Linked DNA regions of Homo sapiens: all the other regions are linked to region 1. Evidence: fine-mapped expression QTL. A gene starts in region 1. Each other region holds a variant in brackets. All regions are shown on one strand. Distances are from middle to middle. Region 1 holds the start of CAPN9-AS1 (CAPN9 antisense RNA 1). Region 2 overlaps LOC124904548 (a long non-coding RNA gene). Region 3 overlaps CAPN9 (calpain 9).

What was found. PIP is the estimated chance that this variant, and not a neighbour inherited with it, causes the effect.
Region 2: its variant is the best candidate, but not a certain one, in a credible set for the expression of CAPN9-AS1 in atrial appendage (GTEx, PIP 0.73).
Region 3: its variant is the best candidate, but not a certain one, in a credible set for the expression of CAPN9-AS1 in minor salivary gland (GTEx, PIP 0.66).

What each region holds. Positions count from the first base shown.
Region 1 is chr1:230,793,104-230,797,295 of GRCh38, reverse strand. It overlaps CAPN9-AS1 (CAPN9 antisense RNA 1), which reads left to right and starts at 2,085. Exons shown (of 2, transcript XR_001738518.2): 1 at 2,085-2,183. CAPN9 (calpain 9) reads right to left here. Exons shown (of 20, transcript NM_006615.3): 18 at 2,017-2,133.
Region 2 is chr1:230,826,133-230,830,324 of GRCh38, reverse strand. The region is part of intron 1 of LOC124904548 (a long non-coding RNA gene); the gene reads right to left. Among named protein-coding and RNA genes, the nearest start is that of CAPN9-AS1, 33 kb to the right of the region's middle. The variant A/G (reference allele first, on the strand shown) is at 2,123.
Region 3 is chr1:230,749,460-230,753,651 of GRCh38, reverse strand. All of the region lies in intron 1 of CAPN9 (calpain 9), which reads right to left. Among named protein-coding and RNA genes, the nearest start is that of CAPN9, 4.2 kb to the right of the region's middle. RefSeq lists an enhancer at 1-2,959. The variant T/C (reference allele first, on the strand shown) is at 1,859.

The sequences.
Region 1 (4,192 bases):
CTGAGATCTGCTATTAAATTATTTAGGGGGAAAATGTATGTGTTGCGGGAGCACAAGGGAAAAGTTAGCAAGATGGTAATTGTTGAGGTTGGGTGTAAAGGTCTGGAAACACCTGGCGAATTTGCGTAACTCCCAATGCTGTGTGCCACCCCTGAGATTCTAACAGAATTGGTCAACTGTGCAGCCTGGTCATCAGCATTTCTTTAGGCACCCCTGGAGATTGTAATGTACAGCGAAGTTTGAGAAGTGCTGATGTGGAGTGCATGGGAACCTATTATGATTCTTTATATCTAACTGGAGGGTTGACATTCTTACAATAAAAAGTTAAAATAATACTGCAGCAAAGCTCCATCCTTGGTAATTCTAAAAGTTCTCCAGGCAAATCTAATGTGAGGATGCCAGAGTGGATGGTGTTAAGCCTAAAGGGTCTTCACCCTAATATTCCTCTACTATAAGAAAAGCTGAGGCACTCCCACCCCCCGTTCTGGGAAGGATTACACCTGGGTGGTTTAGAAAGGGAAAGAGCAATGGAGAGAAGAGAAACTAGCAAATCTCATTATTTCTAGGGTCAGCTCTGACCACCCTGTAAGTCTAATAACGGATTCTGTTTCAGGAGGGGTCTTTCTAGAATGCACCTCTCACTAGCTACCAGTAACCCCTTAGGGAAAGCCGGCTTCCTGGCTTGATATACTAGACCCTTTGGGGCCTGCTGGTCTGTCTCTGATTTTCTCTCATCATTCCTTAATCAACACATACTCATTGATTGTCCAGAAATTACGGCTCTCCTGGAGCTTAGAGTCTAGAGGGGCTGTGCTTCAGGCAAGTAATTAGTGTTCTATTACCAAAGAAGCAGAGGGAGCTATCATGCTGATAACCAAGGGTCACAGCCCTCACCTTTTTATTTTAATTTAATTTAATTTTATTATTTATTTATTTATTTATTTATTTATTTATTTATTTATTTATATTTTTGAGATGGAGTCTCCCACTGTTGCCCAGGCTGGAGTGCAGTGGCAAACCTCAGCTCACTGCAACCTCCACCTCCCAGGTTCAAGGGGTTCTCCTGCCTCAGCCTCCCGAGTAGCTGGGATTACAGGTGCATACCACCACATTTGACTAATTTTTTGTATTTTTAGTAGAGACAAAGTTTCGCTATGAGCTGGTCTCGAGCTCCTGACCTCACGATCCAACTGCCTCAACCTCCCAAAGTGCTGGGATTACAGGCGTGAGCCACTGTGCCCAGCCCCCTGCCTTTTTTTTTTTTTTAATCAAGTATTCATACCTCGAAGTGGCCTATGGAACATAGATTAGAAAATACCAAGCAGGACAAAATGGAAATGCGGGGCCCCCTGCTCCTAAGTTGTGAAGACTTTCAAGATGGAAACGCCAGAACATTAAACCAAGCACGAGGCACCCTTGAGGGCACGGGTCCTTTGGCACCTGCACACAGGGCATGTCCTCATAGCCACTCCAGTACTGAGTTACAGGCCCTGGACATGCTTCACTCAGCCTCACCTTCAAAACCACCTTTGAGGGGCAGGATGGCTATGACAATAAACTGCAAACACTGAAGCGCACGGGCACATAATCCCTCTCTATTTGTGGTGTAACAAATCTTATTTGAGATAACTGGGTCAATGTCTAGGGCTTACAGGGCGGGGAAGGGGGGAGGAAGGGGGACTGAGACTCTCCTGTTTCTATATGCTATGATGGGATTTGACCTGCAATTGAACCTTTCCTCAAACACAAGGCACAAACCTGCCCCAGCCCATCATCCTCCCACAGAGGCACTGTGAATGTATAAAGAAAGGCGATGCTAAGAAACGTGCTGCAGGGGAGGCTGGCACATTCTGCTCCTTAGCTAACCGCACAGGCCCATGGGTCCACACACATCAGACCATGGCTCTCTGTGGTCTATCTTTGCCATTACTTTAACCAGGCTGTTTCTCATGCGCTCATGGAGGGTGACTGAAGATGCCACCCCGAGGTGCACCCTCAGCCTCGCTGGACACTTACGGCTCGCATTCTCCAGCCGGACCAGGCAGTTGAGGAAGTCATCGAAGTCCAGCTGGAGCTCCTCATCCGCATACCTGAGCACAATCAGCTGCAGGAGGTGGCTGCTCAGCTGAAAGCCTGTGGGGACAAAGGAGGAGACCCAGGACTCGCTGTATCCGAGCCCCGAGGTGAGTCTGCACCTTTGAGGGAGCTCCCAGGCAGCTGAGGAGAGGGCTCAGAAGAGGAAGCCACTGTTTCACTCCTCAAAGCTGGGGTCCCCAGACCCAGTGGGACTGCTGCCCTTGGTGTGAATGCAGCGTGAGAGTGTGAATCTGTGGTGCAGGGGCGAGTGTGCGGGGGACTCTCAGGCGTGCTTTCTGTGTTTAATGGCTTCTGAGTTTAGCGAGTTTGTGATCTTAATTTTGATGCTAACATCACCCATAGAGTCTCGCTGACTTTACAGGAAGCTTTGTTTGGGGGAACTTAACACTGGGTGGTGTCTGAGCCCCAAGTTCATTCCTACACCAGCCTCCCCTCGCGTTCTATGTCTCAGGTCACTTCCAGCTGTGGCCCTAGAAAGTTTCTTGGAGGGGATGCTGCTGCCCACGGAGAATGATACTCTGCCAGGGCCCATTCCTACACATCCACGATGGGGGAAGAATGACAGGCTATAGCCAGGAGGCTTGGATCTGAGCCCTGGCACTGCTCCAGCCGTGGCATATGGGTTCAGTTCTCTGGGCTTTGGTTTCCTCATTGTCAAATGAGGAGTTTAGACAAAGTGAACTTCCTTCTGGATTTGATATTTAGATTTTTTTTTTTGAGATGGAGTTTCACTCTTGTTGCCCAGGCTGGAGTGCAGTGGTGCAATCTCGGCTCAGTGCAACTTCTGCCTTCTGATTTCAAGTGATTCTTCTGCTGCAGCCTCCTGAGTAGCTGGGACTACAGGCACCTGCCACCACAACTGGTTAATTTTGTATTTTTAGTAGAGGCGGGGTTTCATCATGTTGGCCAGGCTGATCTCAAACTCCTGACCTCATGATCCACCCACCTAGGCCTCCCAAAGTGCTAGCATTACAGGTGTGAGCCACCACACCTGGCCAGTGCTTTGATTTCTAATTAGTGCCCTTAGAAGTGATTTCTTTCCCCCTTTCATTTTTGTCTACATGTTCACTTTCTAGGAGGTGTTCACAGGATTGTTCAGAAATCCACCCAGGGTCTTTCTGCTTCTTCCTAATTCCAGCAGAGGAGCAGGCAGGTCAGACACAGAGCACAGAGTCCCTGGAGCCTGCACGGCAGTGCTGGCTGCCAGCCTTGGCCAGAATCCTGATGTTTGGGGCTAGAGGAGGGGGATGAGGGGCGATTCTCCCCACACCACGTCAGGGTAGGAAAGACACAGCCATGCCCCTCCTCTCTGAGTGCTCCCTTTGTCCCCTGCTCAGTTCCTCCTCCTACCATGGAAACAGAGTCATCATCCCCTAAGAAAATCAGGCGCCCCTTCTCAGCCTGGCACTTTGCTCATTTATAAATCATCTGATTTTCTTCTCCCTCACATAGGACCCGAGATGGTCCTGGCTGTGTATACTTCATCCTTTTATCAGGCCTGAGCCTGGACATGTTTCCAGATTTTGCTTTCCCTGGGAGAGAACCACTTTAAAAGGTTCAGGAGGCCCCTATCTGTGAGGTGTGCTTGGTGAGAAGCGCAGGCAGCCCGGCAGGCGGGAGGTCTGCAGAGCGCTCGTGGAAACTACGGTTGTGTGTGCAGGACATGGGACCACAGAGATGCCGACAGCCATCCAGCACCGGACAAGAGTGGGAAATGCCACCTGGAGCCCAGCCTTTGGGTAAGGGAGCAGGGTATAAACTATGATGCAGTCATCCATTTTGGATTCAGAGTCTGATGCTGATAAAACCCGGGACAGGGCCACAGGTGGCAGAGGGACGTGCGGACCCCAAACCATGGGTGCTGCATGCTCTGTCTCATCCACGATAACAACCATCTGAGAGCAGAAATGAGAAGTTTGGAATCACTGCAGCTTGCCACCAAAGAGCCATGTGTTAAGTACTGGGCCAGAAAACATGGTCAGAGGCTATGAGGCCTCCAGAGGGCAGGCCAAGTTCATTTTTAGCAGATACATTTAAAAAGTTTCTACCAATGTTCACAGTGGTTTAAAATGAGGGCCCTGGTGTCAGGAAGTGA
Region 2 (4,192 bases), 33 kb before region 1:
GCTGGGACTACAGGTACAAACCACCATGCCTGGCGAATTTTCTTTTCTTTCTTTTTTTTTTTTTTTGAGATGGGGTTTCACCATGTTGCCCAGGCTGGTCTCAAACGCCTTGGCTCAAGCAATCTCCCACCTCAGCCTCCCAAAGTGCTGGGGTTACAGGCATGAGCTACGGTGCCTGGCCTGGAACATTTTTAAAGTGCTGAAAAGGAAAATAGAAATGCCCACCTAGAATTTAATGTCCAACAAAAAATATCATTCAAAACTGAAAGCAAGCTAGGCACGGTGGTGCATACCTGTAGCCCCAGCTACTTGGGAGGCTAAGATGGGAGGTCACTTGAGGTCAGGAGCTAGAGGCTGTAGTGTGCTATGATCGCTCCTGTGAATAGCTACTGGACTCCAGCCAGGCAACATAGAGAGACTCCCTCTCTAAAACAAAAACAACAACAAAAATTGAAGGTAAAATAGAAACTTTAGATACACAAAAGCTGAGAAAACTTGTCACCAGCTGACCTGAATTACAAAAAAAAAAAAAAAATTAAAGGAAGTTCTTTAGGCAAAATGAAAATAATACTACACAGAAGGTTGGGTATCCACAAAGGAAGGTAGACTGAAAAAACGATAAATATGTGGGTAAATATAAAAGCCTTTTTTTCGGATTTTAAGATGTTTAGTAAGATAATCAACTGTTTAAAGCAAAAATAATAACAATGTTTCATGGTGTCCATACCATGTGTTGGAAAGAGATCAAACTAGAGCTCTCTAGCTGAAGGGGTCAGACTTTGACAAAATCCAAATCCGATGCATAGCATCTGTAGAAGTAAAATGTATGAGAATATTACAAAGATGTGGGGGCAAAGTGGAAGTATATTGTTTGAAAGATTTTATCCATGAAGTGGTATTATTATTATTTAAAGTCAGACTGTTACAAGTTAAACATATGAATTATTAACTGTACAGCAACTATTAAAATCATAGCAAAGACATCTAGGTAATAAGTCCGTTGTGAAAATAAAATGTAAGCTAAAATTTAATCAACAAGAGAACAGGAAGAAAGGAAAAATAGAAACAAAGAAGAAATGGGACAAGTGTAAAGCAAACAGCAAGCTAATAGCTTTATGCGTAACTACTGCATATCAATAATTACATCAGATGCAAATAGCCTAAACACTCCAATTAAAAAGCAGAAATTGTCAGGATGAAAAGCTGAGCACGGTGGCTCAAGCCTATAATCCCAACACTTTGGGAGGCCAAGGTGGGTGGATCACGAGGTCAGGAGTTCGAGACCAGCCTGGCCAACATGGTGAAACCCTGTCTCTACTAAAAATACAAAAATTAGCCAGGTGTGGTGGTGCACGCATGTAATCCCAGCTACTGGGGAGGCTGAGGCAGGAGAATTGCTTTTACCCAGGAGGCGGAGGTTGCAGTGAGCCGAGATTGTGCCGCTGCACTACAGCCTGGGTGTCAGAGCAAGACTCTGTCAAAAAAATAAAAATAAATAAATAAATAAATAATTTTTTGAAAGCCCTACTATTTGATGTCTATAAGAAAAACACTTAAAATTTCTAGTGGGAGCTTCGGGGGACAGCTTGGAGAGGCCTGTTGGCTGGTCTGAGCCCTTCCACTGGAGAGCTCTGGGTTCATTTGTTTCCTACATTGAGGGTTTGCATCCAATTAAGGTTCTGGTGAAAAGACATAAATAAAGGTGGAAGACCCCTGGGCAGTGAAAGTGTTCGAGTTGCTTCCATTGTTCTTGTTCTTTGTCCCTGAGCAGTTCTCCAGCTCCTTCGAGTAGGCCTTGTGGATCCTCCTAGCTGCCCTAGCTTAGGAGTAGCTTGGCAGGAGGTACGCCCTGCCATTTGTTTCTTTTTACACTTTAAATGTGGTTGCACATAAGTGACAAAAATCACATTATGTGACTTGCATTTATTTTTGCTGGACAGCACTGCACAGAGCTTCACCCCCTTTCGGAAGGCCTTCTGTACATTCTTTCATTTGACTTGTATCACGGCTCTATGTTAGGGTTAAGGTATGTATTGTATGAAAATGAGTCACGTAGGCAGAAGACTAAGGTCTTGTCCCCACTTATTTCTGTGACTTTGAATAGGTCTGTTTTCTTCTCTGT[A/G]ACACAGATATAATCATCCCTTCCCTGCCAGCCTCACTGAGTTCTCAGGAGACCAAGTTAGGAGACTGTCAGGGAGTAGAGTTGGTGTTCTTATTCTCATGAGGAGGAAGGGAGAGCCTATGCCCCGAGAAGTGAACTGGCCTGTCCAGGCTGGGCACAAGGCACATCCCCCCTGGGCCAGCGTCATTTCTCTCCAGCAGGGATTCCACCGCTAACCTTACGGGGCCATGTTCTCTTCCACCCACTGCTCCATCAAGTCATCAGATTAATTTGACAGGAGAGGCCCCTGCAAAGGGCAGGTTTGCCTTTTGGCCCACCCCAACCTTTGGGGATTGTGAGCCAGGAAAATAAACAAGATTGACCTCAAAGAAGCGTACAAAATGGGCCTTGGGTCAAGCAGCTTATTTATGCAGCAACTTTTCTTCCAAATAGCCGATGGGTTTTGAATCTTTACCAGGCTATTCCTTCCAATGACTCCTTTACCCCTTGAAAAAAAATGATGACCATATTTCTCTCTGTTTTCCAGTTGAAGAAATAGAAGAACATAGAGGCTGAATGTTCTATTCAGAGGCATCCAGCCAAACAGCTGCAGAGCCAAGAGCAGCATCCCAGGGCCAGAGGGGCAAGGCCAGTGAGGTGAAAAGGCAGGGCTGTACACAGGAGGAGAGACGGAACAGCTGGCCGAGAGCAGCCCGTGGGGAGGGGGTGGACAGGCTGGCTGCTGCCCAGATCCAGGGGCCTCTTCAGAGACATGGTGCACAGATGAGTGGCCGTGACTTTCACATGAATGAGTTCAATGAATGAGTTCTTATTCAATGAATGAGTTGTCTCCTAACCACAGATAGGTTGGGCACATTCTCTGCTTTGGGGGTCAGAAGTCCTTTTCCTGGGTGAGATGACTTCCCTGTGGTAGGTTCAGGCCTTATGCTGTACTCAGCTTCTCCCATGTCTAATGGCAGTGCTGGCCGCTGACTGTGCCAGTTTCAGGGCCTGGAGGACCACGTGGCCTTGCCAGAGCGTGATGTGGGTTTGATTGTTGTTGGATAGCAGGTTGAAGCCATCCAGAAAACAGCCACATTCTGTGTAGTGTGGTTTCTAAAAGAGCATCACTGACTGCTCACAGTTGGGGTAGGAGTGGGGCCGTGGATGGGGAAGACGCAGGGAGTGGCAGGAGGGGTGACCCAGCCTCAGTGACCAAAGAGTGCCTGGGCCCTACACATCTTGAATCTTAGATCTGAGCTCCAGGGGCCTTGGCACGGTGTATGCCTCCTCCACACTCAGCTCTCATTCCTTCTGGAGCACAAGATTAAGAACACAGGGGTCTCAGATCTTCAGTTGCTTGTGGGACCCTCCTGGATAGCACCTCTAGTCTTGGCTTGGGGAGCTTCAGGTGAGGGTGTGCAGGAGGGTTGGGGATTAAGAATGGACTTTGAGTTGCACAGACTGAGATTCCTTCCCAGCCATGTGATGTGATGGATTCTATTATCTCTCTCAACCTCACAGGGTTGCTGAGAGGATTGAATAAAACAGCTGTTAACATAATGCCTGGCACGCAATAAGCATGCCATCAATGACAGCCATTATTTTATCAGCAGTTGCACAATGAATCGGGGGAAGCTGGAGGTGAGGGGGCAGAAGGTGGCTCCCTGTCCCGGTGCCCCAAAAGGCTTCTACACAGCTAGCCAGACTCCTGTCCTCCTTCCTTGCCACCACCTCTGAGGCCATGCCCGTCCACTGAAGAGGGTGCCGTGCCTTTGATGACTTTGCTCCCATTTCCAGGCCCCTCTTGCTGTGCTCTTTCTCCTGCTTCCTCCTGCATGCCACCTGACTCTGCCAGCTCCCTGCAGTGGGATTGGCTACCTCTGTTTTTCTGACTCCCCGAGGGCTGACTCCATAGAGGGGGTGTCGAGTGCCTGGACCTAAGTCATACTCAACTTCCCTCCAACACGCAGCTCCCACCCTCCAGCTCTCGTTCTACTCAGCTCTTCCTCCAGGTGCATTCTGTGCCTGGCAGCACCAGAGCAGGGGTAGTGGATGAGGACAGTGGTTGAGAAGCCCTCCTGGCCTTGG
Region 3 (4,192 bases), 44 kb after region 1:
GCAGTGTCTGGGCGGACGCCACGTGGGGAGCTCAAGCTGCGCCGCCTTCCCCGAGAGACCTCTGCTTTGAATTGTCTTCCTCAGGCTTCTCAGCACCCTGCTTCTCCTCTCATCTTGTGTCCCAAAGAATCAAAGGCAGGACAGAGATTTCTTTGAAGTCAAGGGGATTATCAGGACCAAGAGCAGAAGCTTCAAATGCTGGTGCTCTCTCTGCATTCCCCAGGATGTGACAACCTGGAGGAGTGACAGACACCAGGGGCGCCTGCCCAGGGAGAGCTATGTGTGGCATTAGTGTCTAAAATACTCAAGAAAGCTTGGCCAGGAGAATTTCTGAAGAACACGGGGTGTTTTTAGATGCGCCAAAACCCCAGGCCCGGCAGAAGTAAGGACCTCCCAAATGCTGGCCTGTCCTCTGCCAGGTCTCACACGTCTTTGCATTCCCACCCCCAGCTCCAGGTAGCTTTGGCGCCATTTCATTAAATGACTCTGATCTCCGTGGTGGCTGGAAAGGGAGTGAAGGTGGGGGGCAGCTGCTCAGTTCTGGGGTCCTGGCTTGGCTTGCCTGTGCGGACCCCTCTCATCTGTAGGAAGCACACTGCTCTTCTTCCTCCTCCACCTTGGCTAGCGCAGGAGTTTGCAGGTGGCTCTGAGCTGAGCCCAGAAGGACAATGCAAACCAGGACCATGTCAGTGGGCCTCAATAGAGTCCCAGGAATAGCCTGCCCCGCTCAGCAGTAGGGTTCAGGGTGGGCCATTTAACTTCTCACGGCTGCATCCTCATCTGTCACCAGCTTAGACATTCTGGGCTTGCTGCAGAATGTGCCTGCCCGAAGGGAAACCCAGGAGTCCCCCAAGCCCTCCCTGTCTTGATTGCCCAGCCCCTGCCAGGGGATAGCCCTGGCAAGCAATGCCCCCACTGCCAATGCTACTCACTCCTCAAGTGGACATAAAATGTACTCCAAAAGCCACAGATCCCTGCCCAGCAGGCTGTGCTAGCTCCTGGGGCAGGGCTGTTCCCGGATGCCCGCCTCCTTCCCATCCTCCCTGCCCCTCCCCTCCCCCAGCCTTCTGCAGGCCTGGCCCCGCCAACCGTACCAACTGTGCCTGCAGCTGCCACCGCCTCCCAGCTCCTATCTTGCAATTGGTTGTTTTGTTCAGGAGAGGTCTGTTTTTGTTTTTGTTTTAAACCAGATCGCACCCAATGAGGAGAAAAATACAAAAGGAAAAAACTCAGAAACTCTCCAAGTAAACACAAATTAGCCATCGGGTATAAATTGGGGAGGTGTCTGGATGTGTGACCGACTCCTCTGTGGGTCAGTGTTTCTGGGAATTGGTGTGCACACGTGCCAGTCACAGGGGGTTCTGCGGACGCATGTGTGGAAGGGGCAGCTAGGCGGTGGGCCTGGGTTAGATGCCTGGGAGTGGTGTGTATGCTGACGGCCCACATGCCCACATGTGCAAGGTGCCTGTGACTTGCCTTGTTGTGTGTGCCCAGGTGTGGTACACGTGTGTGCTTGTGCATGCTCCACATGTATGCTGGTTGCATGTGCACTTGGGAGCATTGTCTACGTGTGAGTGTCCTGCATGTGCGTGTCGATCCTGGATGTACATTTGTTCCTGTGAAATGTTGCTTGGGAGGCCATGAGGAAGGGGTTACCTGAAGCTACAGTCCTGTGATAGGACGATCAGAGGTGTCTCAATTGCAGGGGTCTTGACAAACCTGAAGTGAACCTAGACTGCTGCCTGAAGCCCCGAGGGAGGCACGCAGACCCCTCCCCCTCCCCCTCCCCTCCCCCACCCCACAGCCCTACCACCAGGTGGTTTTCCTGGAGCACTAAGGGCCAAGCACCCTGGAATGT[T/C]TGCTTTCAGGGACTGTTCTGTTTACCTTGTACATCATCGGGGCTCAGCCGAAGACACACTTTCCTCTACTAAGCACAGTGAATAATTCACAAAGGGAAAAGCCACCCTTCTTTCTTTCTTTCTTTCTTTCTTTCTTTCTTTCTTTCTTTCTTTCTTTCTTTCTTTCTTTCTTTCTTTCTTTCTCTTTCTTTCTTTCTTTCTTTCTTTGTTTCTTTCTTCTTTCTTTCTTTCTCTTCTTCCTTTCTTTTTTTCTATCTTTCTTTCTCTTTCTCTCCTTCCTTCCTTCTTTCCTTCCTTCCTCCCTTCCTCCCTTCCCTTCCTTCCCTTTCCCTCTCTCTCTTCCTCTCCTTCTCTCTTTTTCTCTTTCTTTCTCTCTTTCTTTTTCATTCATTCTGTCTTTCACATGGCCTTCCAGTGAAGAAAAGCCACATTTCCAGCAAGGTCTGGAGATGCCAGACGCTGCTGTTCATAGCTATGTGCCGATCCCTGTCATGTGCCCAGCACTGTGGAGGCCATGGGGCCTTTGGGGCTGTCCCAGAACAACTGACAACCCCTCCTGGGGGTCAGGGGAGCAGCACAGGGAACGGCAAGCTCACCGTGCAGGAGAGGCTGTGGTCACATGCCACGCTGTGCACAGGTCTGCCACAGGGGTTGTTCACATGGGCTAGAGGGGTGTGGGCACTTTCGGGGAGGTGTCCTGGATTTACACTGAGAATTGGTGGGGGGGAATTGCCTGGCCAAAAATAAATGGGTACAGGCAGACAAGGAGGGATGGACTGCATGGTGGCTGTTCCCCATCAGGCTGGGAGACCTCACCCGATACTCCCTCCTCCTCTTTCTGTGCACCCACTTCCACTCAGGTCCACAGTCCCTTGCATGAGACCTGGGGGTGATCTCACCTTCTCTCCAGGTTGAGCCTATCACCCTCTCTGCCTCCCAGCCCCTCCCAGCCAGTTCCCTGAGTCACCCTCAGTGCACTCCTTGCCCTGGGCTCCCTTGAGGGCAAGCCTGGCTGTCCACTGCCCTCCAATGTCCCCTTGGCTTTGTGCTCTGCCCACCCTCCCCAAGTACAGCTGTGTTTGACAAGAAGGTGGTGCTGAGGAGGAGGGCCGTCCAGCCCCACGGTCCCACGGGCTGCTGAGATGTGCACCGTGTAATGCTGAGTCCCACTGCAAATGATGCCCAAGCCACAGAGGTCTGCAGGGAACCTGGCAATGCTTGTGATTTCCCTATGGCCCGCTACCCCCCGGCTCCCTGCGACTCTATGCTGCAAGAAGAGTCTCCATGCTCATCCTCAGCCCTTTTGTTCCTGATTTTACAGAAATCTGTAAGATATGATGTAAAGCTTCTAACTCCCCTAAATAAGAAACAGATAGGGGTACGAGAATGAGGACCAGACCAAAGGGACAATCTTCAGTTGCAGACAAAGGAAAAGGCAGAACAGATTCTGAAAATGAGTCTGTGGGAACGACAGCAACACAGTAGACCTGGGTTAAGATCAATAAAGGGTCTGCCGTAGGTGGAGACAGTGGGATGAAGAAGGGACAGAGGGCTGGTACAGGGGCATGGGCTGGGTGGCAGGTCGGGGTGCATCTTGGCAGGGGCTTGTGTGTATCAAGGGCCCTGGCCTGTGGATGAAGGCCTCACCCAGCGTTTGGGGCAATGCCAGAGGAGATAATACTAAGGAAGACAGCCCCTTGGAGCAGAGATCTGGGACTCTAGAGTCGCTGGGCAGGCCTTGGTGGCCCTGGTCCCAGGAGGGGAGACTTCTGAAGGGGGAGACAAAGATGCCCTCCATGCTGGTTTGTGCGTCCAGCTTTTATCTTGGAGAATTCTAACTTTGACAAAAAGTAAGTGAGTTGTAGAGTACAGATTACACTTTAAACTAGATGATGTCAATATAGACTGCAAGGATGGGGGCCCTCCTAGAGTCAGGAGACGATGGTGTTAGGTTACAATGACAGCAGTAGAAATAACAAGGACCAGCACTGATTCTTTACACACCAGGCTCTTTGCTAAGTGCTCTACTCATGGTAACGCAGCTGACCCTCATGAGGACCCCATAAGTTGCATTATTGTCCCCATTTTAAGGAAGAGAAAAAGTGCTTCCAACCTTTTCATATCAAGTGCCTGTAGAGAACATGAGCATCTGTATGAAACCCTGGATCAAACAGAAAGAGCCGCTGCTTCTGGCCAGGGGCTCTGCTCACCAGGGGCCCAGGAAATCAATTTCTCTAACTCTATTTCCCAGGGCTCCTGACATCAACTGCAGGGAAATCTCTGCCCACAGTTAAAAATGCACCCACAGCCTGCAGCCTGGGCAGCTGCCCACG